4 linked regions of the Homo sapiens genome follow. The protein of the gene in region 4 interacts with the protein of the main gene of each other region in a pairwise test. Each region holds a gene or a part of one and is shown on either strand. Other genes may lie near its edges. The genes, in order: NAF1, EFNA5, TAS2R10 and HERPUD2.

Region 1 (7,033 bases), on a different chromosome or scaffold from region 4:
AAATAACTATTTTATCATACAAATGAAATTTTTGTAAATGTTTACTAACAAAAAATCAAAGAACAGCAAAAAGTTTTTCTGGACTCATTTATTCAATACTTCTACACATAACAAAGAGTAGGAAAGGAAAGGAAGAAAACTATTTCATTCACATCATTAGCAAATGAAAAGCTTGCATGGAAATAAACATCCCCAAACACCACAGCATTTCGCAAATGAACTACTAAAATTCAACATACTAAAGAAGCTCCACCATTTATTTCCCACACACTACACAGTTCCAAGTCAAAAGCTTTATTGAGAGGCAATATAATCCAAGCAAATACAATTTTAAAAAGCTTACATTAGATGATACATTCATCCTTCACTTTGAGAAAATATGCTACATGATTATTCAGAAACCAAATAATGAGAAAGTCCAAACGACCAGATTCCAACGTTGCTATGCAGGTCTCCACAAATACTAAAAACACAGCAGTTTGGAATGTATCTATTACCAGTTCAGATCTGCTCCTCCCCACTAATATGACTTCAGACAAGTCTCTTTCTTTCTGGTTTCATTTTTCTTACCTACGAATAGTAAGGAAACTGAGCACAAGTTCTAAACAGTTACACAAATGGCTAACGACAATTTAAATGTCCAACTGCATGTAATCAAAAAGACAACACATTAATACAGAAATTATATACTAGATCCCAATAAAAAAATTACTGTGCTTCTGTGATAACAGATACTCGTAACGATGGCATTAAAGAAATGCAAGATCCTAACCACACTTCTGGAATATCCATGAAAGAGCAATTATTGTCTGTTTTGTAAGATTATTATATTTTAATTTTCTAACATCTGTATGGTCTACAAGGTTATTCAGTTAAGCAAAATATTCAAAAGAGTACCACATAACATTAAAAATCCATCCTATTAAAAATGAGGTTATAGACATACCAGTCAAAAAATGGGTGCCTAAAACTTTCAATGCAAAAATGGAAGAAGCTAATATGTCAAAAGTGGCCCTCTGAAAAGGTAACATTTATAATTTACAACACTGTTGACTTTTCAAGCATTTGTGAAGGCTTATTGAGCAAAAAAGAGTATCAGTAAATTGATGACTTTCTAAAGTAAAATTATATAAAGAACTTTCAGTAGGATTTTCACTCACAAATATGGAAAAAGGACAACAGAGGTTGGTGGGAGAAGGAATCAAACATTCCAAATGAAAACTAAACCTTTTTGGTGTCAGTTTGGGGAGAATTGAGAAAAGTGAGGAAGGTGGGATGAAATTATCTAACCACTTTTCTCATATTACCCAACACAGGACATGCACGTGGCAGCCAATTACCTGATGCTATTAGGTGAGCCTTCACTTTTCAGATATGGTTGGAAAGTAGGATCCAATCCCTGGAGTACTGAGAGCCATGACTGAATTTTTTTTTTCTCTATAGCTGGTAAAACATATTGGAAAAAGAATGGATTAGGTCTGTACACTTTGTGTCAACTATGACCATACTTAACATGTATTCTAATTCATTAACTTCTTCAGGGGAAGTAATTTTACAAGTTTCCATGAAACTCAGCTATTTATCACCAGTAAGCATTAGTCCCCTCATTAATTACCCTATTGTGTATGACACTAAACTTAAGACTCAGACAAGTCAATTAAAAAATGAGGGTCAACATTTCTTTGAAGTGTCTTGATATTTTTCTTTTTTAAATGAATACATTATTATCCTGTTTTTCTCTAAAATTACTGTTAAGAGAAACAAAGTTCATAATACTTTCAAAATTTAATTTGCTTAAATATAAAACTATAGTCCATCTCAATAAGAAACCTCCAACAATGAATATAACTTTAAGCCTATCTTTCATGTTAATTGAGTGCATATTTCATCAACTTTAAGACACTGATTTTATATCACTAAGATAAAAAGACTGCCAAATAATTGTAAAATGCCACAGAGTATTAGCCTAAATTTTTCAGAAATCCTTATTACCTCCCCTTCCACTCAATCCTATCACTTCTTATGTGCAGTACACCATTCATCTGACATTCAACCATTAACTCTCTGGTGCTACTTTGCTTTCAGCTAAAGTGTATATGCTCATTCTCTAGTTCCATTGCTCTTTAACAGATATTTGTCTTTATCTTCTAAAGCAATCAGCAGAATTCACTTATTAGAAACTACTGAGGAATGGGGGAATCTAAACAATTGAATGTTTCTGTGTAATAATAATTATATATGTATATACACAGGACATAAATGGATACTCTACTGAATAAAACAGTATTTATTTCATGTTTATGAAATCATTCATGCCTCATGTAAGCTTTATTGAAATATTCTGTAAGATATAAAACTTTAATTTAAAAAACCCTGAGTATTAATTATTTTTGAAGAACACTAGTGAATATTAATGAAAAATGATCTTAAGTATACAAACCATTGCTTAAATAACAAGCACTTTGGGAAGAATGTTAATAAGTGCTATCAAAGTGTATTCTAAAATAGAATTTAATAGTTCCAAATATACATATAGTAATAAAAACCTAAGTTAAAAGAGGCCTGCATTCAGGACAAAATTTATAAACCAACTTATGCCTAGAAAACAATATATTCAATTGATAATTACTAAGTGTAGACCAAGATGCAATACAATTTCATATATGATGGGAGATCAAACAGGCATGAAATATTCTACTGCAACTTCCAACCACTTGAGTGGTCCAGATATTTCCATACATTCACGTTAGGACATTTTAGAATGTGTCCACACTGCCACAATCAGGAGAATAGAGTGTACTCAACCTAACTACCAAACGTACTTATTTTATAAAATAAGCAGTCACCAAAGTATGACAGCTAAATTTCCCCCAAAATTGCCAATAAGCATTAATTTTTTTCTTGGTCATGCTACATTATATGCCTAAAGACACATTATTATCCCTACTGAAGTATTATCCATTTCTTATCTCCATAAACATTGTGCTAATAATTTTTAAATGTTATGTGAAGCCTTTCAGGTTTTCAGAAAACAATGGGCACTAATTTATAAAACTCATTTCTGATTAAGACTTTAAAAATTATAATCCCAAATATTTTTATGACCCTACATTTTTAATTACACTTGATACATTTGAATGAAGAGTTCAGAGCATCAACTGCTGATAAAATTGTTTAAAAAGAATCTCAATTTTCCAATTCATCAAAACACTAAATACATCCTATGTGGCTCAACGTAGTTCCAAAGCTGTAATATGTATGCTGCTTACAGTGACTGTGTAGGTTATATATAAACCTTCTGAGCATTAAAAAAGAATTTATGTTTAAAAGAATAATTTTATCTAGTTAAACTTATTAATTGTGACATTATGAAGAGAGCCACTTAAGACTCTCCTTTTTCATTGCCACTATAGCTCGCTAATTCCTCTTTTATTCTCTTCCCCCTTAACGTACCCTCACATTAAAAAACAAAAACAAAAACAAAAACAAAAAACTGGGTTATAACCACATCTTGGGATGGCAAGATTTGGTTATAACCTAATTTTAAAAATTATATCTTTCTAAGGTTTAAGAACAATCATAAAGTTATTTCACTGTAGTTCTCATCTACCTAAAGATCTGCATTGTACATAGTTAGATCGCAGAGATCGAACAACCCACAATGGAAAGATTTAAAGGGATAGATCCAGAGAGGCGACATTCCTGCTTGAAGCACAGACTAAATGGAGGTAAAAATTAAGCTAAGCATGCCTGAGTGACAATAGGAAACTGCTAGAAAACTCTTTAGAAAGTGGTTGGACATAAAATTGGGTTAAACTGGGCTAAATTGGGCATGTCTATGTCCAGATCCCTGAAGGTCCAGCACAAATTCTAAAATTGGTTTTAACTGTTTGGCACACTTTAATTTGTGTATATCTTTTGGCAGAAAAGTTCATTAATTTTCTTCAGAATTTCATTAGATAGTTAATAGACCACATAGAGCTTGAAGCTCCATCTAGCTAAGATACACAACCTCTGCTGCCTAAAAGTCTAAGTGACATATCAAGAGGCCTGAACAAAATGGCACATACCACACAAGCTAGGAATAGTTGTGGAGAGGAGATGCTTCCCAGAAAGAATGGACTGTCATTTTCCAAAAAAAAAAAAAAAAAAAAAATCTAAGCTAAATAACAGAATTGTCCCAAAAGCAAGCAAGGAAATACAACACTAATTAGCCAGTTCATGGGACACTGAAAGCAAAAGATGCCATTTTTAGAGCCAGAGATACTGAAATCCATGTATAAGCTAGAATTAAAAAGATCAATCTGTCCAGGCACGGTGGCTCACGCCTGTAATCCCAGCACTTTGGGAGGCCGAGGCAGGTGGATCACCTGAGGTAAGAAGTTTGAGACAAGCCTGGCCAACATGGCAAAACCCTGTCTCTACTAAAAATAAAAAAATTAGCAAGGCGTGGTGGTGGGCGCTTGTAATTCCAGTTACTTGGGAGGCTGAGGCAGAAGAATAGCTTGAGCCCAGGAGGTGGAGGTTACAGTGAGTCGAGATCGGCCACTGGGCTCCGGCCTGGGCGACAAGAGCGAAACTCTGTCCCCCCTCACCAAAAAAAAAAACCAAAAAACAAATCTATAGATAAACAGAGGAAGCCAACCAATAATGAAAGAATAAAATGCCAGAGAACTGTGAGACTATCCAGAGGCATGTAAAAGAAACAGTGTGACTAGCCTTCACAGCTGCCTTAGTTCCCAGCTGCTTTCGAATAAACTTCCATTTCTCCTGAGGTAATATGAGTCTCTGCTCCTCCTAACAATGAGTCCAACATAAGTCGTACATGATATCACTTCCAAGTATTTCCCTTTCCCTCTAGTGAGTATAATCCGTTGTTACTGTCTGCCCAGCATCCCCTTTTGGAATGGATATAAGCTCCCTTTCCTGTGAAAGATAAACCATTCCATGTGGTTTATATAGGGCTGATATTACACCCAACATCCCACCCTCCTCACAATACATACACATTCACACTCCCTTTCTGTCAACTGGCTGTTACGCACTCCCACCCTCTCGCACTAGCCCATGTGCTCTTTCAAGTGTTCATTTTCCTACACATGCTCTCCTCACTCTCTCCTACACACTCGCCTACACAAACAGGAGTGACTATGTGACTCACAGCCAAGCAATCTGAATACCCATTCCACTAGCCTCAATGATCTGTTCAAGGCTGTGTTAACAGACCATAAGCCAGCAAAAGTCAACTCCAAGACTTTCATGCAAGAGTCTATCAGTGGTAAAACTGCCAGCCCTGAGAAACGGACAAAGAGGCAGACTCCTAAACACACTACATACCTGTAACTATACACTATCCTTAGTACTCAGGACAAAGTCATTCTTTTCCCCCAAACTTAAGATTTGAAACCCCGAAGAAGTCCTTATATCTTCTTTCAGACCTGTAAGCCAGAGATTTAGGGCAGACTGGGAAACTCATCAATTCCTCTACCTATCTCTAGCAGCACAGTGGTCTGAAGGACTTCTAATAAGTTTCCCAAATAAAGACTATAATTGCCTCTTCCATCATTCCCAAAGATCCATTGAAATGGTCACAGAGAGGAACAGACCAACCCATCATTCCAAGTTTGAAAATCTAATAACATTCAAATGGAATTTTGTCTTTCGAGGCAAACATACACTTACACAATTCAATAGCATTTTTAGCAATTAAATTTATTTGTCTCCACTTTATTTACTGTCTGTGTCTCTCCATTAGACACTATGAGAGCAGAAACTGGACTGGTCTTGTTTACAGCACCTGGCAAATGGCAGGTGTGCTATAATAATTTCTTAAAGAATTAATAAATATAAAATGCCTATTCACACACTCATTCTATAATCATGTATTACTTTGGCCTGAGAACCCATTATCTATAAAGCACTCCACTGGGGACTATGGGAATTACAAGGATCACATATGAACTCAGTCCTCAAAGAACTTGTTCTTGGACTCCTTGTGGCCACAAATCCTTTTTGATCTTCTGATGAAAACAGGGACATTCTGTTCAGAAAAATACCTAAACAAATATGCTAAGACTTTGCATTAAATTGGAAGAAATTCCCAAGGTAAGAATTGCAAATCTAGTAAGACAATGATATGTATGCATTTACAGAAGTACTGTGGTCTTTTCTTTGTTCGTTATTATATTCTAATAAGGAAATTATGTAGAAAAATGATCAAGAGACAAGCAAGAAAGACCAAACAAGTCTCCTACTTTCAGAAAATAGTTATGCTGGGAGCCTTTGTGTACAAAGACCACTAAGAAATATTAACATATCTGTAGCATGAAAATATGAGCCACTGATGAAGCTGCATACAAATCCAAAGGTCTTCAAGTTATAAAGCATAAGCGAGACGAGAATTTCTTGTTATGAGTAGAGAAAAAGAGAAATAATTCAGACTGGCAGAATCCATTCATGAAAAAGGCTCCTGAGTGCCTGTAGGCTTTAATTTATTTTTTCAAATCTTGCATTAAACTATCTCATCAATTTAAGTGTTATATAAGAATTATGATTAGTGACCATTAAATATTTTTAAAGCATTAATAATTAAAACTACATGCAGGGGTAGAAAAAAAACAATGTGATAATATGGCCTACATTCTGAAATTCTGAGAAGGCTTTCCTCTTGGGTCATAGGTTTCAATCAGACTAACATCATCCTCCTAAGGATGTTTACAGCATAAGAGGAAATAACCTTGCAAGAGTTAACTTTGCAAACCAAACCTATCGAGTGCCAATAAATACCATTCTACAATTAACAAGTTTTCTCCAACTGTAATAATAAAAACACTCCAAAAACTTCAATAGGAATCCTAACAAGTTCAACCCTCTGAATTTCATCTTCTACTTCTCTAAATGCAGTCAATTAAAAAGTCAATTGCTATTGAGCAAAATTTTCTGACGTGCAGACCAAAAAAATTGATTTCAATTGCTATTGAAATTTCAATTGCTATTGAGCAAAATTTTCTGACGTGCAGACCAAAAAAAAAAG
Region 2 (7,033 bases), on a different chromosome or scaffold from region 4:
TGCACAGGAGCTGACGAACCACTGGTGTCACTATGACAATTTGGCATTTTCATCTGGAGTCCATTTAATTTGGGAGGGGTGAGAGAAGCCAAGGGCCAGGGCTGGGGGTGGGGCGGGGTGGGGTGAGGGAGGCAGGAACAAGTTTAGGCCCCCAACCTGAAGTTGTTGCTTAGAATTCAGGCTGAAAGAAAGAAAACAAAAATCTGACATCTGCCAAAACCCAATAACAAGTCCCTTCTTAGGATGAGCAGTTAGGTGGATCTCTGGTGTTCCAAGACCCTGATGTTTTCTGTGACAAGTGATGGGAGGAGACTGTGCTATAATGTCAAAAGCATCGCCAGGAGGAACAGTAGGATTGCCAAAAGGCGGCTGGGTATCCTTGGTGTTTGTGCCGCGTTCTCGCCGCGGGATGGCTCGGCTGACTCATGTACGGTGTCATCTGTTCAAATAGAAAGCACACATTCCAATGAGATTTCACATCCTTAATAACTCTCTTGCAGCAGCCTGCTGTTAACAGACCTCGCCACCCTCTGCAAAGTAGGGTAATGAACCTTGTGCCACCATTGACTTTCATGTCTGCATAATCACTCATTATTTACAGCAAACAAAGAAGAGGCAAAGAAAATTGGACTTTCTCAGCAATATTAATACTTTCCTTAAAAATTGAGGGGAAAAATTATGCATACACCGTAACCTTTGGCCTGTGAGCTGCTTTGGTTAGCCAGCAGTCAGACACGCCTTGCACAAATTTCAGATATCTGAATGTACCTTTGAAACCTAAGATGTCACAGGCAAGCAAGTGACATGTTGGTGGGGGTGGGGGAAGGGGCAGTTATGTTGGCACAGTAGTGGTTAACCAGAATGCGCTGCCCATTTCCCTTCTTTTAGCTGTTTCATAGGATTAGTGTTGAATGCCTGGTTGTTGGATGCCTAGACGAATTTTCAAACATGAAAAACTAAATGCCAAAACAGCAGCATTTTGGATAAACTATACATCATGCCTAGTAAACTTCAATAAACGTATGCCCACTAGTTTGCCTGCAATTAGGTGTCAATTATGGTGCTATTTCTATTACAAACCCTGTATTTCTAAGATTAAATTACTTGAACTTGACTATTTTTATTTTTATCGGGCTGAAGCTTGGCACATAAATTATCAGCGTGGATGCAAATTTTCCTCTAAATAAAATAGATTAAGTGAGTTAAGCTTCTTTTATTTAGCTATAAAGTGTTCTATGAGGCTGCCTCTGACTTTGGATAGCCTTCCTGATCTGCATGATTAACAGGCTTAACTTCCAAATGGGAACTCTGAAGCAATTAGTACCAAAGAGAGGTTGGAGGCTTGCCTAGGAGCCAAGCTCTGCTCCAGGGCTGCCTGTCTTCTTCTTTCCACCTGACCTAACTTATGCTTTTATTTACTTTTAATTAAGTTAAATTAATTAATATTTTTTTAGAGGTAAGGTCTTGCTCTGTTGCTCAGGCTGGAGTACAGTGGCCCAATCATAGCTCACTATAGTCTTGACCTCCTGGGCTCAAGCAATCCTCCTGCCTCAACCTCCCGAGTAGCTGGGACTCCAGGTGTGAACCACGATGCCTGGCTAATTTTAAGAATTTTTAGAGAGACAGGGTTTTCCTTTGCTTCCCAGGCTAGTCTCAAACTCAGCCTCAACCAACTTCCTCCCTTGGCCTCCCAAAGGATTGGGATTATAGACATGAGCCACTATACCTGGCCACTTGTGCTTTTAGACTAAGGATCTCTGAATAACACATTTTGGGGGCCAATAGTGAGCCCCTGTGCAAATTTTATCTCAGCATCAGGGTAACTTCCTGCAGGTGTTCAGCAGTTGCCATCTGGGAATTGCTCAAGGGCCAGACAGAATGGTAACAAGGCTCTAGTGGTTGTTCTCAATTATACTGACCTCAAAGGATAATCCCTAAATACCCCTGGATGACCCACCTCAAACCCCTTAATGGGTTAACTAACCATTATTTTAAACTCATTTGTATTTTCCTACCACACGTGTCACAATAAGGGTGCTTTTCCTTCACTGGGTAGAATCACACTCGCTAATATTTGTCCTAAAGTAACCACTTTTCAGGTTCACAGGCTGACCCCTGCTTCAGATATGCTCGTTTGGGATGGTTTTGTCCATCACATCCATTCCCAATGAGAAAGGTCTTCTCAGTGTTGAGTCTCCTGACCTGGAGTGCTCTTACCATTTTAGCCTCCCCTCGAATAAAAGCTACTGCATCCCCTTGTCAAATGTGCTCCCCTTTCCTGGACCTTAGCGAATCTGCATGGAGTGATTTTAGCTTAGGAGACTAGAAAAGGTTAGGAAGCAAGATGGTAAGATAAATGGATGCAGAAAAAATATATATAAAGTCCTCCACAATGTGGCCAAGTACCTTCAGACCCTCTTCTATTCTCTGCTCTTTTTCAGCCTTGCAAGTGTATTAATTAAATCTGTAGTTAATAGGAAGTAGAAGTAAAGGCCCTTAATAGCCCTGAAATTAAAATCCAAATCACTTTCTTAAGAGCACCAATATGTTGTCAATCAAAACAATGGAGCACTTCAGGCTTAACTGTGAAATAACCACAAACCCTGAGGATTCCAGAGTTCATTTCACAATATCACATACTTAAACACCTGAAATTGCATCAGCTATTGGATTCCTCTCCATCTTATTTTTACTAGCATATTACCCAATCCTTCTCCTTGTATAGCTTGCAAGTGTACTGTTAAAGGTACCCAGCTAGCACTTAGATCTTCGGTGTGAACCCCTTCATCACCACCCTAGTCCCTTCTAGGTACTCAGTGAGGGCTATCCATTATTCCAGGTCCACTCAGCACAAGACACAAGGAATAGATCTTACAAGGTAATGGAGAGGAAGGCTTTTGTTTTTCATCTAAGTGAAGTATGAGGCTAAGTGTGACTTTCAGTCCTTTAACCATACACAATCTTTGGAATTAACCTTTTATAAGCACCCAACGAATATATATCTTCCTGCCCCCCAAAAGGAAATCAGTCCCATTAGGGCATCAGGATCCTTCTCTTCTTCCTGCAACATGCTGTTCCTCATTCAGGATTCCACAAAGCATCCTTTGATTAAAACAGGTTCTCAATGTTGGAAGATTCTACAGCCCCCAAATGTGAAATGAGAAACTGGCTGTCATTTGGGTAAATCTGAGCAATTTCAGAATTCTAAGGAGGAATTCATAGGTAAAATCTATCCCAATGGAAACTACACCTAAACATGAGAGAATTTCTAACGCTTGTAACACAGGCTTGGAAGAAGAAAGAAAACGTTCCTCTTCAGAAGTCAAATCAAGTTTTGCCTCCTGGCTACAGGATTCCACAACATGGGGGTTTCAATGGTTAACGGAGAGAACACTAGCGATATTTTGGAGCATGTTATGTGGCATATGTCTGCCCTGAGATCATCCTGCATCCCTGATGATAGGAAACTGGCAGGCAGAGTGTGCAAGCAAACAAAAAAGACAAATACATTCCAAAGACAGGTGAATTAGTACACATCGCTGAGATCATGCAGTGGAATCCTTTCAGACTTGCTGGGTTCATAAAGACTGGGTCTACACCCAGAGCTGGGGAAAGGTAAATACCCTTTCACTCAGTGGCTCGACACAGTGGTGAAGAACTGCAAATCCAACTAGACTTTCTCTCTCTTCTTAGAGACAGAATCTTGCTCTGTCACCCAGGATGGAGCACAGTGGCGTGATCATAGCTCACTGTAGCCTCGAACTCCTGGGCTTAAGCAATCCTCCCACTTCAGTCTCCCAAGTAACTGAGACTAAAGGCACACACACCACATTTTTTTTTTTTTTTTTTTTTTTTTGGTAAAGACAAGGTTTCACAGTGTTGTCCAGGTTGGTCTCAAACTCTTAGCCTCAAGCAATCCACCCATCTCAGCCTCTCAAATTGCTGGGATTATAGGTGTGAGGCACAGTGCCTCACACCTGTAAGAAACACATTTCTTATTGTTTTCTTATTGCCAGGAATTGTGGTTCAACCTTGTCTCACTTTGTTAGTGAAGATACTCACCAGCAAGCCCTTAAAATATAGCTCTGACTGACTCAAGGAGCTTTTCCTGCATGTACACCTACGCTCTACTCCCCAGCACACGTATGCACACACTGAACTACATTCTGCCAAACTTTTGCAAACTTCCAGCAGTTATATGTCCATCAATTTTGGGCCATTGTGCATTTTAAATGCTTAGTGAAAAAAAACCTTGTTTCCCCAAAGACAGTGGTATATGTTCATGTATGAAAGCATCTCAATATCTTGCATTGTATCGTTAGTGGAATTCAAAGGTAATTTTCCTAATGGCAGAATAGTCCTCCATGTGCCTCTTCATTACCAGAGAAAAATATGCAATCTGTTAGGTGTCTAAGCAGCCTCCTATGCTATAGACAGGCAGTGGAGATTCCCTGGAAAAAAAACCATGGGAAAGATATGCCTACATTCTGCACAATGTGTATCAAGAGATCATAATCCTGGGTAATTTTTGTTTAGAACATGCTGGTCATTCTTCTCGTGGCTTCTTAACAAAGACAAGAGACTTAAGTCCTCTTTATGAACATACCTCTAATAATGGTAAGAGACCACTACTTTGATACTAATGTTGGAATAGGAGTCAGAAGATCTGAGTATTAAACCTGGATCTACCTAATCAGCAATGTGGCATGGGTGAGTCTCCTCAGCCATAGAAGGAAGAGTGTAGAGTCTGGGGTTGTTAAGGGAGATACTGAGTAACTTGCAGATCCTCTGGTGGCCCAAGTCCCTGAGCTTGTGAGGACTCTGGTACCTTAAGAAGCCAAAGTCATGGCTCCAGATTTCCAGGACACAATTAAAATGCCTTCATGTCAGCATTCATTCCTTAAAACTTTCTAAAGCAGCTAACTGATCCCTGGGGAGCCACTAAGACCTCGGAGAGCTCATTGTACACACCTCTCATTTGCGCTCTGGGTGAGATGCCTGCCTTAGAAAACAAGAATGCTTCAGGGAAAAAACTCTAACTCTTCCTGTCAGTTTTAACAGGAAAGCTATTGTATGTCCTGAGGCACAGCATTTACTCAGGGTAAGTTTCCCTAAGGTTCATTGACTATGCAGTCCTGGTTACAATATTGGAGGAAAAAGTGGACCTTAATGTCCGTTAGTTTCTAGGACCATAAGGAAGAGAAATTCTACAAAAAAAAAAAAAAAAAAAAAAATTCTCCATTTACATAAGGGGGCTCAAATCTCTCCATGAAGAGGAAATAATTTTATTTCCCTTAAGCTTTGAGATGATCAAGGGAGATGGGTAAGGAAACCAGTGAAGATCTGGAGCAGGTCGGGGAGAAGAGGACACCACAGAGGAAGGAAACACACAGGGCCTCCAGGCACACCCCTCCATAAGCAGTTGGTAGAGGGCGACCACTCCTCTCAGTTAATCTAGTTTTATTAAATGGCCAGACTGAATTGATAACCGAATGGATATTTACAGGTTCTTATTATCCATAGTATGCGACAGACTAATGCCTCAACGAGTGCTTTGGTAGGTTTTATTTTTCTTTAGTTATGGGAAACATTAGGAGTGTGGAAGTCAATCGTAGAAAAGTTTTATTTATCCTTAAAACTTATTTTGCCTCGGTAATCAAGGATCACATTTGGCTCAACAGGCTACTGGTACATTTGTGGCACAAGAGATGTGCGAATTTGTGGTGGCAATGTGATTATACTTCTCCAGACCAATTACTATTGACAATAGCAAAAATATTTAAATAAAATAAAGTTCCTTAGGTCAGTTCAATGATGCATGTAAATTTCTAGAGAAAACTAAGTATGTTGAATTAGTTTCTATTTTGTGCAATAGTCTTATTACTTTTATCTACAGATTTGGACATAAAAAATAAAATTTTATGAACATATACATAGAAATGTTTTGTGTCTTACATGAAAACAGATCCTTTAATATTCACAGTGATTCACCAGCATGCTCTGAGGATATGGTAAAAGGCAGTGAGATTTTAGCATTCCGATGGGGCTTCTATATTAGGATACTGCATTAGCTCAAACCCATTCCAAAAAAGAAAATTTTATTTTACCTAACATGCATTGCACAAAGATACTGGAGGAATGAGGTAGAATATAAGTCATATTAGCATCGCTAGCAATGAGCAAAAGCAGAACAACAACTATAACATGCAAACATGCAGAGAAGAAGAAAGGAAAAAAATACGGAAGCACCAGAGAAATAGATGCATTTGTTAAAAGAGATTCTCTAAGCATACTAACCTGCTGGTTCTAATGAATTTTCTACTTTGTCGTTAACATCGAAAACACGATCATGAACACCTATAGTTTTCATACAGCTATCTATAACAAAAATAGAGATAACAGCCAAATATGTTAGTGAAGACACCCTTAAACTCCCATTTCTTTCTTTTTTCTTTCTCTCCTTTTTTTCTTTTTTTATGTAGATTGTCTTACAATCAATGGCATGTTCCAAATGCCAATATTGTTCCCATTTGCTCTGCATGTACAACAGTCTAAGAAACAACAAGTTAGCAACTGCTGTGTACTTAAGTAAAAGCATCATGAAGAATGAGAAAAAATATGATGAAAACTAAAATATGAATGTTGATATACAAAACAGATACCACACAAGATTTAACAGTAAAAAAAAGTTTTACCGCCGTGAACCAGACCACACAATAAAGCATGCGCGGTGAAGCCACCCTCTGAAGCTCATTCTAGTGAACTTACTTGTTGGTCTCACAAAGACTTTGAGCTTTAGACAGGACCTTCTTCCATTATCTGGGATTGCAGAGGCTGTGGGTAACACAGAGAGAGAGCAGGAAAGAAAGAAGAGAACAACAACATATTACTCTTCATTTTCACATACAAATGATGAACAATAAATTCTTTCCTGACTTGAACAACAGGAACTTTCTCTAATTCCTCCTCCAAATTAAAACAAACAGTACTTTTCAGGTCTCACTGCTATAGAAAGGCTACTTTCATATCCTGA
Region 3 (5,805 bases), on a different chromosome or scaffold from region 4:
TGATTTTGAAGAGCATATTTATTTCATCAGTGTTTTGATCCCATATCCCTCAACTAGACCCTTGTTTCCCTAACTATATTTCACAGAACTACATCTACTCCTCTGACTACTTGCTACACATCGTACACCAGTAAAAAAGGATGTTAGATTCTAAAAAATGAAAAAAAAACCTTTAAATAATTAAAATAGCATTCTGTAAAGAAGTACCACCATCTATCCTCACTTCCATGTTCTAAATGTCAAGATTGATCTAATTTTCTTTCTTTCTTTTTTTTCCTTTGGGTTTTCTGGGAGAATGGGTGTCCTTGCTTCAGAAAAGTCAGGTAAAGCACAACAAGAAGTTTTATTTTAGAGCTTATTCTCACCGTTATAATCTTTACAGCGAATAGTCTCCAGGCTGATGGTCTTCCTCTAGGAAGTTTGTAGGAAGAAGTTGCAGGGTGGGGAAGCTGACTAAGCCACTGAATTTGCATGTGAGATTAAAATCTCCTCAAAGACTGAGATTCCCTGAAACATAGTCAAAACAATTATGGAAGATTTCAGTGATCTTTAATGACACAGTTAAAAAGACAATGCAAGAATGCAGTGCAATGAAACAGATCTTCAAGGATTTATTCACTGGATTCCTTTCGTGGAACATCCATCTCTTCCCAAGGTGTCTATGTGACTCTGAGATTTTTCCTTTTCTCACAGCACTTCAATTGCTGCAGTACCCTCAAAGAGGCTTGCTTTAGCTTGCTGTTTCCTAGAATTAAGATAAATGAGTGACCCCAGGGATAGATGGCTGTGGTTGTCATTCCAAACATAAGCAGCAGTTTGTTTTCTCGCACAGTAAAACATGATATTTCTATGGCCATGCCTATAAAATACAAGATAAAGAGGATGATGAAAGATATCAAAACTTTCATTGCCTTCACATGAGCTTCTGTGTTGGAGTCTCTCAATCCTGTCACATTCGATTGCATCTGCCTGTTGTGTCTCCAAAGGGAAATGATTAAAAAAATACATGTAATTAGGGATAGTGTAAAGAAGAAAATGACTCCCAGATTTAGCAAAATCTGTTTAATAAAGTATTCACTTTTATACATGTTGAGATCCCAGACTGTGTCATTCTTCGTTTTATAATCATTAAGAATCTTCGCAATGTATGCAAAATTAAGTAACGATGAAATAAGTAAGAATACTATCATGAAGGGAAGAACCATATTTGTTCTGCTCTTCAACCAGAGAAATATGTAGTTGGAAAAATTTGCTATCTTCAGGAAATAGAAGATGCTGAGGCTGGTGGCAAACCACATACTTGATTGATTACCAATTACCCAAAAGTAACTAATATATTCAATTAGGTTACCGGAGGCATATATATTTGGAGAGAATATCTGTATAAATCCATCTGTAATTATTATCCATATCAGAAAAATTCTTGAAATAGCTAAGCCGGTGAGAATAAAGCCAATCGTAGATAACTTATTCTTGGCACAGTCAATGCAGTTTACAAGTCCAATAAATCCATTCCCCAAAACCCCAAACACTGACTCACTAACTACAACAAAAATGAAGATGCCTTCCACTACACGTAGCATATCTGCTAATTCTTAATATTGCTTCTGTTACATCTATCTTAGATTACCTGCTGCAGAATGAGGCATATATTGGCTGCTCGACGGAAGTGTGACTTTCTTCTCTTTCATTATATAAAGACTTGAAATTGCCCCAGTAATGGCTTGAGATGGAATCAGAAATTTCTTAATGAAGACCTTTCCAAATATGTCTACAAAACATAGCTAGTCTGGAGAATGTATGTTCAGACTGAATGCCTATCTATAATTTGTTAAAATGCAAATGAAAGTTTCTGTTTCATGGATTTTACATGTCCTCCTGAGACTATTTTGCATTTAATAAATTGAATTGTGGAGGAGGAGTGCCAAACATATACCTATAGAATGTAATGCAAAACAGAAACAAAAATTTTGACTTTATCTTTTAAAATATCAAATCATTATTTATGTCATTTATAATCAATTTATATATGTACAGAAAATACTATATAGAAATGAAAAACAAATTTAGCCACTGTAGATACTTACTCTAAATGATCGATTTAATTTTTAATTAAAATTTAAGCTCAACTCTAGGTATGACAAGTTTCACAAATATGTCACAAATCTGTTGCTGTTGTTTTATACTTATGGTTATTACACCCTTGAATGCAGAAGATTATGTTGACTACCCTTGACATGAAAGGCTCTTAGGAATAATCTCTTCATTTAACACATTACTGTTTGCTGGCACCCATTCATTTATCCAACAAGTATTTACTGAATGTCTAGATACAACAAGCTCTCTTTTGATCTTTGAGGGAATATAGTGGTAGACAGAATTTCAAAACTTGTGTGATTTATGGAGTGTATATTCTAATGAGGGAGGTGGGAAACAATTAAGTAAATCAACATACTGATCTAAGAATTAAAAGTGAAATTAAAAGTGAAATCTAACATTTATTGAGCTTTTATTATATTCCTAGCGCTATGTTAAGTATCTTTTTCTCATCTTAATTTCACAAGCCTTCAATCCTTTAAAAGAGGGGCTATTTTTGTATTTACATTAAATATGAATAAACTAAGCTTTGGAGAAAAGAAGACCTTCTCTCACTTATCCTGGCATGACTACCATAAATAAAATTGCACAATGATTTCAAAATGAAGTTAAATTAAGCTTAGGAATAGACTACAAATGATAGCAAAACAAAACAAACCAACCAAAAGCAAGTAGAAAACTTAAATTCTCATGGGCTGCACATACTGAAATTGACAGATAAGAATATGTATAGATAAATTAGCTAATGTATACACTGTTTACAAAAAACAAGATGCAATTTCAGAGAAGAGCAGCAAGAGACTGTTAGAAAGAAATTGGAACATTTGGGGAAAAAACTTCTAGAAATGGAGAATATAATTATATAAAATGTAAATGAACTAAATACTCCAAGTAAAAAATTAATAGTAACAAAGAAGAATTTAAAACTCTGACTGTATACTGCTTACAAGAAACACAATTTAAATATAGAAAAGGAAAACTTTAAAGTAAAATTATGGAAAAATAAGCCATGCAAACATCATCCAAAAGAAATCTGGCATAATTATAACAATATTCTATAAAGCAGACTTTAAGGTAAGAAGCAGCATTAGAGAAGAAATGGGGAGTGTACTTTATAGTGATAAAAATGCTCAAATCTACAGAAAGGTAGGGTAATCCCAAAAATTTATGAACCAAATAATCTACCAAACATTTACAGAAAAGGAAAAATAAGACAAATCTACAATCACAATGAAAGACTGTAAAATACATAACTCAATAACTCATCTTAGAAACACCAAAAATCAATAGATGGAAAATACATGAAAAAACAATTGACAAACTTGTGTTCAACGGTAAAATAATTCATATTCTTTTCAAGTGCACATAGACTATTTTTACCAAGACTGATCATGAATCCAAAAGAATATCTCACAAGTGTTGAATGTTCTCTGAATTCAAAGGAATAAAATGAAGTTCAATAATAAAAAGATAACTAGAGAAAGAAACAATTTACTAAGACAAAAAACCTGTAAATACTCTTGAGTCAAAGAAGAAATAACAAAAATTACAAAAATATTTTTAAGTAAATAATACAGGTTGTGTATCCCTTATCTGAAATGTGTGAGACCAGAGAGCTTTGGATTTCGGATTTTTTTTTCTTTTTTTTTAAGTTTTGGAACATTTGCATCATACTGATTAAGCATCTCGAATTCAAAAATTTGAAATCCAAAATGTTCCAATGAGCATATCCTTTGAGCGTCATGTCAGCGCTCAAAGAGTTTCAGATTTTGGAGCATTTCAAATTTCAGATTTTTGGATTAGGGATACTCAACGTGTAATAAAGAAATGACCTATTAAAATTTACATAATCCAATTAAAGCCATTCTTTGAAGGAAATTTGTAGCCTTGAATGCATCTTTTAGAAAGGCAGGGTAAAAACAGATGAATTTTGTTTTCATCTCAAGAAGCTAGAAAGCTAAGAGTGAAAGAAAATAGAAGTCAAGAAATTATAGTAACAGCAGAAATCACCGATAGAAAAGAATTAGGTACAGTAATATACTAATGTTGGTCAAAAGAAAATACAAATTACTACAGTCCTTAGAGATATCAGAAATATGGCCTGGGTGTGGTAGCTAATGCCTGTCATTTCAGCACTTTGGGAGGCCCAGGTGTGAGAATCACTTGAGTCCAGGAGTTTGAGACCAGCCTGGGAAACATAGCAAGACCTTATCTCTACTAAAAAAAATAAATAAATAAAAATAATTTAGCAGGGCATGGTGGTGTGCACCTGTAGTCCCAGCTACTTGGGAGGCCGAGCAGGAGGATTGCCTGAGCCCAGGAGTTTGAACTTGCAGTGAGCTATAATTGGGCCACTGCACTCCAGCCTGGGTGACAGAGTGAGACCTCATCTCTCTCTCTCTCTTTCTCTGTCTCTCTCTCTCTCTCTCTATACATACATATATATACATATATATATATACATATACATATATATATATATATAATACTATATAATATAGTTACATATCCTTGTATATAATCTTTTATTATAAGACAATACTGTGAACAACTTTATACAAAATTTCATCAAGAATACTTATAAGACTATTACAGGCTAATATAGCCTGAACATAGATGCAAAAATTCCAAACAAAATAGAGTCCAGCGATATATAAAAGAATAATTCATTATAACAAATGGAGTTTTAAAAGCCAATTGTGAGATTAAAATGAAATAATTGAAGATACAGTCAATTAACACAAAAGAAAGCCAGAAAAAGGACAGAGGGACAAAAATAAGTGAGATAAATGAAAAACATTGAGCAAAATGCAAGACTTACAGCCAACCATACTGATAATTACATTAAACATGATTTGACTAAACACTCTGATGAAAAGATAGAGATCATCAGAATGAATAAATGAAAGCACAATTAAATGTTATGCCTAGAAGATAAAACATTAAACATAAAGGCACAGATAGATTGAATGTAAAGGAAAGAAAAAGCTATACTATGGAATTTGTAACCATAGAAAGCAGGACTGGTTCTATTCTCAAAGTGGCTATATTATCAAGACAAGTAGTAGAAAAATAGAGGGAAGTTGTATAATGATAAAATATTCAATTTATCAAAAATACTTAACAATCCTGAAGGTGTATCAGACTAATAATTGTGACTCAAAATAAATAAAGCAAAATTAACAGAACTAAAGCAAGTGATAGGCATAGCAAAGATTTAAAAACCCCTTTGCTGTGATCTGCATGTGTCTCCTCCAAAGTCTATATGTTGAAACTTAATTGCCAGTGTGCCAGTATTAAGAGATGGTTCCTTTAGGAGGTAATGAGGGCAGACCTCTCATGAATGAGATTAATGACCATTTTGATGTGCATTCTAGGTATGTTAACTCTACATGCCTTAGATTGTGCAATAGTAACTGGGCTCTTATGAAAGGGTTTTAACAACTTCCACAAGTTCTAGACTAATTTCTGCAGTTACATCAGCAGCAAAAATATTCACAAAAACAATGGTGCCACTGCATTTCAGCCTGGGCGACAGAGTGAGACTCCATCTCAAAACAAACAAACAACAAACAAAAAACATAAAGTAACTGGCTAAATCCATATTATTACAGAGACAAGATTGTTACCTAGAGGAAATAAGTGGTTTTCATTCTATTTTGCTTACTTCTGTTAAATTTCTAACATCCACCTTCTGTAGATCTGAAT
Region 4 (7,033 bases):
GTAGGCTGGGGTAGGAGGATCACTTTAGCCCAAGAGGCAGAGAGGTGAGCCAAGGTCGTGCCACTGTCCTCCAACCTGGCAACAGAGGGAGAGACTGTCTCAAAAAAAAAAAACAGAAAAGAAAACAGAAACATTATTAATTTTTTCATGTGCCTAAACTAGGTAAAAAGTAACACTTGGAATTTTTTTTGTTTTTTTTTTTTTTTGGAGATAGAGTCTTGCTCTGTCACCCAGGCTGGAGTACAGTGGCATGAGCTCAGCTCCCAGCAACCTCCGCCTCCCAGGCTTAAGCAATTCTCGTGCCTCAGCCTCCCGAGTAGCTGGGATTACAGGCGCGTGCCACTATGCCCAGCTAATTTTTTTGTATTTTTAGTAGAGACAGGGTTTCTCCATGTTGACCAGGCTGGTCTCGAACTCCTGACCTCAGGTGATCTGCCCATTTCAGCCTCCCAAAGTGCTGAGATTACAGGCATGAGCCACTGTGCCTGGCCGGAAATTTTTTATGCCATTAAAAAACTGCCTCTTCAGTTTAAATATCAATGAATTTAATTTAAATATCAGGGCTGGGTGCAGTGGTTCACGCCTGTAATCCCAGCACTTTGGGAGGCCCAGCTGGGAGGATCACTTGAGGTCAGGAGTTCCAGACCAGTCTGGCCAACATGGTGGAAACCTCATCTCTACTAAAAATACGTGGCAGCAGCAGGTGTGGTGGCAGGTGTGGAAGGCTGAGGCTGGAGAATCGCTTGAACCTGGGAGGCGGAGGTTGCGGTGAGCCAGGGTTGTGCCACTGCACTCCAGCCTGGACAACAGAGCGAGACCCTGTCTCTAAATAAATAAATAAATAAATAAATAAATAACTTAAATATCAGGAAAATCATGTGTTAGACCTAATAACAAATGACAATAATCAACTGAATTTTCAACTAGTTATTTTGGTATTGTAAGCTACAGCATTAGGAAAAGCAGAGACTTTGAGATCTCAACTCAATTTGACTTGTAAAAAGTAATATAATGTTATTTATCCAGCCCTGCTAATATCATTACCTTTTTCTTTTTCTTTTCTTTTTTTTTTGAGACAGAGTCTTACTCTGTCGCCCAGGCTGGAGTGCAGTGGCGCGATCTCAGCTCACTACAAACTCTGCCTCCCAGGTTCATGCCATTCTCCTGCGTCACGTCCCAAGTAGCTGGGACTACAGGTGCCTGCCACCACGCCCGGCTAATTTTTTATATTTTTAGTAGAGACGGGGTTTCACCGTGTTAGCCAGCATGGTCTCGATCTCCTGATCTCATGATCCGCCCACCTCGGCCTCCCAAAGTGCTGGGATTACAGGCGTCAGCGCAGCGCCCGGCCTAACATTATCTTTTAGCTTGATTAAAAACCCATTTCCACCCGGCTAAAACGGTGAAACCCCGTCTCTACTAAAAATACAAAAAATTAGCCGGGCGTAGTGGCGGGCGCCTGTAGTCCCAGCTACTTGGGAGGCTGAGGCAGGAGAATGGCGTGAACCCGGGAGGCGGAGCTTGCAGTGAGCCGAGATCCCGCCACTGCACTCCAGCCTGGGCGACAGAACGACACTCCGTCTCAAAAAAAAAAAAAAAAAAAAAAAAAAACCAAACCCATTTCCAGGCCAGGGGTGGTGGCTCACGCCTGTAATTCCAGCACTTTGGGAGGCTGGGGGGGGGGGGGTGGGGGGGTGGGGGGGGGCGCGAGTCACGAGGTCAGGAGTTCGAGACCAGCCTGGCTAACATGGTGAAACCCCGTCTCTACTGAAAATACAGAAAAATTAGGTGGGCAGGCGCCTGTAATCCCAGCTACTGAGGAGGCTGAGGCAGGACAATCACTTGAACCCAGGAGGCAGAGGTTGCAGTGAGCTGAGATCACGCCACTGCACTCCAGCCCAGACGACAGTGCGAGACTCTGTCTCAAAAAAGCAAACCAAAACAAACCCATTTCTATATTAGTTAGGGTAATGATAGTTGCTATAACAAATCCCAAGATCTCAGTAGCTTAACACAATAAAAGTTCATTCGTTTCTCAATTTAAAAAACATTGCATGGTACCCTTCTAATATAAGAATTCAGAAGACTCAGGGTTCACAAATCTAAACGTACTAGTTAAATTGTCAATTTAAAGATTCTAATGATAAGATACTGGCTCCACAGAGTAACATATAAATATAATTGGCCTCTCCATTACCACCACCACTATTCTTCCTGGTACTCACCCCTACATCCAATAGTCAGCAAATTCTATCAGGTTCACTACTTTCACCACCAATACTTCACCCTAAATGAAGCCTGGTCACAGATGGCAGTGCAGAATCAGCCAAATAATAAGACAAAGAACAAGTTGGAAACATCCTGATGTACTCTGAGTGGCCCAGAAACAGAAATATCCCACTTCAAATAAACAGCTGCTTAACTAGCTGGCCGAGAAAACCTCTGCTACCCACTTAACAGACATTGCTAAAAACCAAGGTGAGGAAAGCTCACTTGCTGGTATAACAGGTTAAAATAAGTCCTAACCTGGACTTTTTTGTTGTTTCTAAAAGGTTTATGTATATGCCATTATTGAAAGTGTCTGACCCTTTAATGTTTAACCAAATATCAGAAACAGATCAAATATCATACATCCTTAACACATTTAAAATATCTCCTGGAGTCTGATAAATGGGTTTAAAGCCAACAATACTTTTATATTTCAAGAAAGTCACCTAGTTAGTATCAAATGATTAAATTTTTTATGTCAAGGATTAAATGGGTCTTTCAATTATGTATGGCTTAAAAATCATGTTCCTAGTATATCCAACTTCAGCATAATCAAATTTCATATGCTAATTTAAAAATATTAATTAAAAATTTTAAAATATCTATCATCTTAATAGTTCAGTAAAGGCAATCTTCAACTTACAGGTTAGTTCAATGAACTATAATCTAGTCCTTTAAAAGTAGTAACTATTAAGTACTTACATATAGTTCAGTCACAAATATCAAATAGCTTTAAAGAGCTGGGTCCCAGGAAGTGCACAAAATATCATTTCTGTGGGAAATGAATTCTGTAAATTTGTACTAGAACACATCTCCTTCCCATTTCCCACTAAAAGCATCCAATCTAAAAACCCTGAAAATTCAGAAACACTATAAATAGAGGCACAGTCACCCAAACTGCCTCTACCCCTTATCTCCTTGCAGTAACAGTAAGCAAAACTGTACCTACAGAATATTACAGAGTAATGTTCTCTGGAACTCCAAAGAGATATTCCCAGCTTAACTGCTTCCACTCATGGGTAGAGATATATGATATTCACACACCAAGTGATGTACACCTCTGATGTTCAATAGAGCCTGTCAAAGTATATGACTATGGTTCACACCAACTGGTAGACTGTGAAGACAGGACAAAGATATGTGCGCTGCAGTCTTAAGATATTATGCATCTAATCTTTCCTATAATTTATCAGAATAAAGAGATATAACCACACATTAAGCTAAGTGTTAGCACCATAGTAAGGCTGTTATCCATTTATCTACAGCCTTTAGACAACAAACCAGCCAAACATATAAATCTCTTTTTATAGCTCAACTGGTTCTTTTTAGTTTACAAGTATATAACTGAGATGGCTGAGTCCCTAAATGCCTTTCTTCATCTTATTATACATAACCATCACATATGATGTGTACAGTAAGTCCAACCTGGGTTCAAATTCTAATTCCACTCCTTAGAGTCTGACCTAAGCAAAAAAAAAAATCACCAAGCCTCGGTTTCTTCATCTATAAAGTAGAGCTAATTATAAACCTTACATCATAAGAAGTCTAGGAGGAATATATGTGATAAAGCATATCAAATGCTTATTATAATGCCTGGTACACATGGCAAACACTTAGTAAATGGCAAAGTCAGAGCAGTTAAATAAAAGCATTCTAGACAATCAAAGCAGAATTTATTATGTTAAAAAAAGAAACTTAAGCTAAAAGTTCTACAAAAATTCTATCTGGAAAGTATTGAGAAATGATTAAACATTACCTTCATAATAATGTTATTATATTTTCCAAAAAGACATAAGGCTACAAATACATTAAGCAATAAAATTTTAGTGAGCAGTCATTCAAAACTTTTAGTCTGTTTTTCATCAACTTTCACATTCGATAGTACCCTTTGTTCAAAAGAGGTTTTAAAATCTTGAACTATATTCCCAGGCGACATGAAACCCTCTTAAATGTATTAAAATCTTATAAGACAATAGTTTTATAAAACAAAAATTATTTTGTTTATGGATTATAGCCCCTTTAAATCAACAATTCCAAAATGGTTAAACAAGTAGACTTTTTAAAATGACCTAAGTAAGGTAATAGGAAATTACAAAACTAAGAGAGATAAAATTTCAAATGATATAAGCTATTTCTACCTGTAATGAAAGTAAGACTTCTGATTGCAGGCAATTTGGTTATGGAGTGTTATAATCTCACAACAGAACCTATATATACAATTGGTTCTATTCTTGCTTCTTTAATTCTAATAGAATCTGAGAGTAAAGGAACAGTTTGAAAAAACAGCACAAACCTGCTTAACTGATCAGGAGAGGTAGATAAGAAAATGACTGCTTTGGTTTAACAGTATGAACAGCAAAGACAGAGGAAATCTGCCCAGAACTGAGGGACACAATCAGAGGTATTTTGACCCCAAGACTGAAAAATGGAGAGCCAAGCCATGCAAGCCCCAAAAAGGTTTGCCTTCAAAACTGAATTCAGAGTGAGTCAGGTCCATCTTAGTGACTGCTTGTTCATGAGAACAGATATAGTAAGAGAATGAGAAAGGTACCTAAGTGGACTTGGATATTCATATTTTTAAAATTTTTCTCTAGGATGATCCATCTATTATCAACCGTTTTGGTATTTACATCTATAATAACTAAGTCTAAACTCAGATTAAAGTCTGAAACTCAAGTAAAAGTGGTCTTCTTGCCAAGTATCTTCACCACCAAACAGCAATTACCTAAATTTTAGAATTATTTCACAGTGCAGCCCAATTTCAGGATCTGAAAAACTAGTCATGAAGTGATGTCAAATGTCATATTACAACTCACAATTATCTATATATTCTGTAATATAAACTAGTGCACTTCCCATTTCCTAAACCAAGTCTTAAACCAATTATCAATATCATTCAAAGTTAACTCCAAAACAGCTCAACTCCACATCCGAGGTTTTTAATTATGACTTTGTGAACATTTTCACAAATATGGCAACTGCCTAAATTCCTAACCAGAAAACACCTTTCCCTTCACAGATCATTAAGGATCTATAATCTTTTTACCTAATACTGTATTACTAAGTAATATACTAATATAAAACAAAGTCATCAGTGCAAACATTAACTCCAAAAGAATAGTTAAGGCCGGGAGTGGTGGCTCATGCCTGTAATCCCAACACTTCGGGAGGCCGAGGTGGGTGGATTACCTGAGGTCAGGACTTTGATACCAGCCTGACCAACATGGTAAAACCCCATCTCTACTAAAAATACAAAATTAGCCGGGCGTGGTGTCACATGCCTGTAATCCCAGCGACTTGGGAGGCTGAGGCAGGAGAATTGCTTGAAGGCGGGAGGCAGAGGTTGCAGTGAGCCGAGATAGCGCCATTGCACTCCAGCCTGGGAAACAAAAGCGAAACTCCGTCTCAAAAAAAAAAAAGAACGGTATAAAAAAGGAAGCTATCAGAGTCTGATTCTTGTCTGCTTAAAACTGTAATCAACTCTTTAAGAAAACTTAAATGTCCCCGTGAATCTTTTCTTGAAACAGCTACACATTCCCCTAACCCCTACTCCAGAGATGATCATTCCCTTCCTGTGTTCCTATGCAACACACAGAACATCCCTCCTGTATAATACTAGTCACATACTATTACGCTTATTTACTTACATGTCACTGGATCTGAGCTTCACAAAAGCAAAGGACTCTTACCATCATCTTCACACTTAGCATAAATATTCAAATGCTAGGCCAATAAAATCCTAGTTATATAAATAAATGAAGACCCAAAAAAATGTGCTTTGAGGGGGAGGGGTACATTTGTTCTAAGTTTGCTAGGGGAGGGAGAAGTGAATTTAATATACCCATATGGAGACTGTGATTAGTCAAATCAATATCTGACCATGAAGCTAGGATCCCAAGATTTTACAACTTCATAGAGTTCAGCCAGAATTCCATTAACAGCATATAGACATATGACCTATCTTTGTAGGATCCTAAAAGGACAATCTCAAATTTCCATTCTTTCCCCTCTAGCAGCACCAATTTATTTTCCTAGAAGCCACTGCCCACAGGAACAAAGTCCCTCCACCTACTCCTGACCCATCAGATCCAATTAGAGCAATGTTGATGAGAGCCATCAACTTTTTACTTACTGGGGCACTCCTGTTCCTACAAAGCACTGGAGCCCTACTCTGCTAAGTCCACACACTGATAATGAAAGTAGGCATATGTGCAAGGAAGATGCACAAGAAATTATCTCTGTTAAACATAACAGCACTTGAAAACTAAAACACAGAATCAATGTTTAGTCATTGCAGGCGGTCAGAAAAACCTAAACTTCCTTTATAATATTACTTAATAGCAAACTGTGCTGAATTCTAAATAATGACCTTACAAAGTAAACTTTTAGGACTCCAACTCCTATGCTGAGGACTACCTATGGCTTTGCGATACCATTAAACTGCTGCTCAACAACTGTGATGCTTCAAATCAATTCTCACGTGATAAGAATGTAAACTTACTAAATCTAGTAACTATACAAAGTTTTCAGTGAAATTCTATGACGATAAACACACATACCCCCACCGCTCCAGAGCTCCACCCACTCAACCTAGAAATGAAAGTCAGACATTACAATTCACTTAAAGAAAACTTGTCAAAGGAGAAAAAAAGGTTTGCCATGTTAATCATTAATAGGCTGCATAGTATTTGGTTTAGCCTCCAAAAGTGTCTCCAGTGTGGCTACAGGAGGCAGGCAGTTTGGGAAGGAGTTCTGTAACAGATCT

What was found.
Region 1: the proteins of HERPUD2 (region 4) and NAF1 interact in binary tests that used the Homo sapiens proteins (3 or more experiments, as listed by UniProt).
Region 2: the proteins of HERPUD2 (region 4) and EFNA5 interact in binary tests that used the Homo sapiens proteins (3 or more experiments, as listed by UniProt).
Region 3: the proteins of HERPUD2 (region 4) and TAS2R10 interact in binary tests that used the Homo sapiens proteins (3 or more experiments, as listed by UniProt).

The regions. Positions count from the first base shown.
Region 1 is NC_000004.12:163,156,885-163,163,917, forward strand, and holds part of NAF1 (H/ACA ribonucleoprotein complex non-core subunit NAF1), read right to left. Parts: intron 1,444-7,033; exon of another isoform or gene 1,341-1,443; intron 1-1,340. UniProt on the Homo sapiens protein: RNA-binding protein required for the maturation of box H/ACA snoRNPs complex and ribosome biogenesis.
Region 2 is NC_000005.10:107,380,938-107,387,970, forward strand, and holds part of EFNA5 (ephrin-A5 isoform 1 precursor), read right to left. Parts: intron 6,835-7,033; coding exon 6,769-6,834; intron 6,379-6,768; coding exon 6,298-6,378; intron 440-6,297; coding exon 318-439; 3' UTR 1-317. UniProt on the Homo sapiens protein: Cell surface GPI-bound ligand for Eph receptors, a family of receptor tyrosine kinases which are crucial for migration, repulsion and adhesion during neuronal, vascular and epithelial development.
Region 3 is NC_000012.12:10,824,687-10,830,491, forward strand, and holds TAS2R10 (taste receptor type 2 member 10), read right to left. Parts: upstream 1,673-5,805; 5' UTR 1,584-1,672; coding exon 660-1,583; 3' UTR 533-659; downstream 1-532. UniProt on the Homo sapiens protein: Gustducin-coupled strychnine receptor implicated in the perception of bitter compounds in the oral cavity and the gastrointestinal tract. Signals through PLCB2 and the calcium-regulated cation channel TRPM5.
Region 4 is NC_000007.14:35,685,135-35,692,167, forward strand, and holds part of HERPUD2 (homocysteine-responsive endoplasmic reticulum-resident ubiquitin-like domain member 2 protein), read right to left. Parts: intron 1-7,033. UniProt on the Homo sapiens protein: Could be involved in the unfolded protein response (UPR) pathway.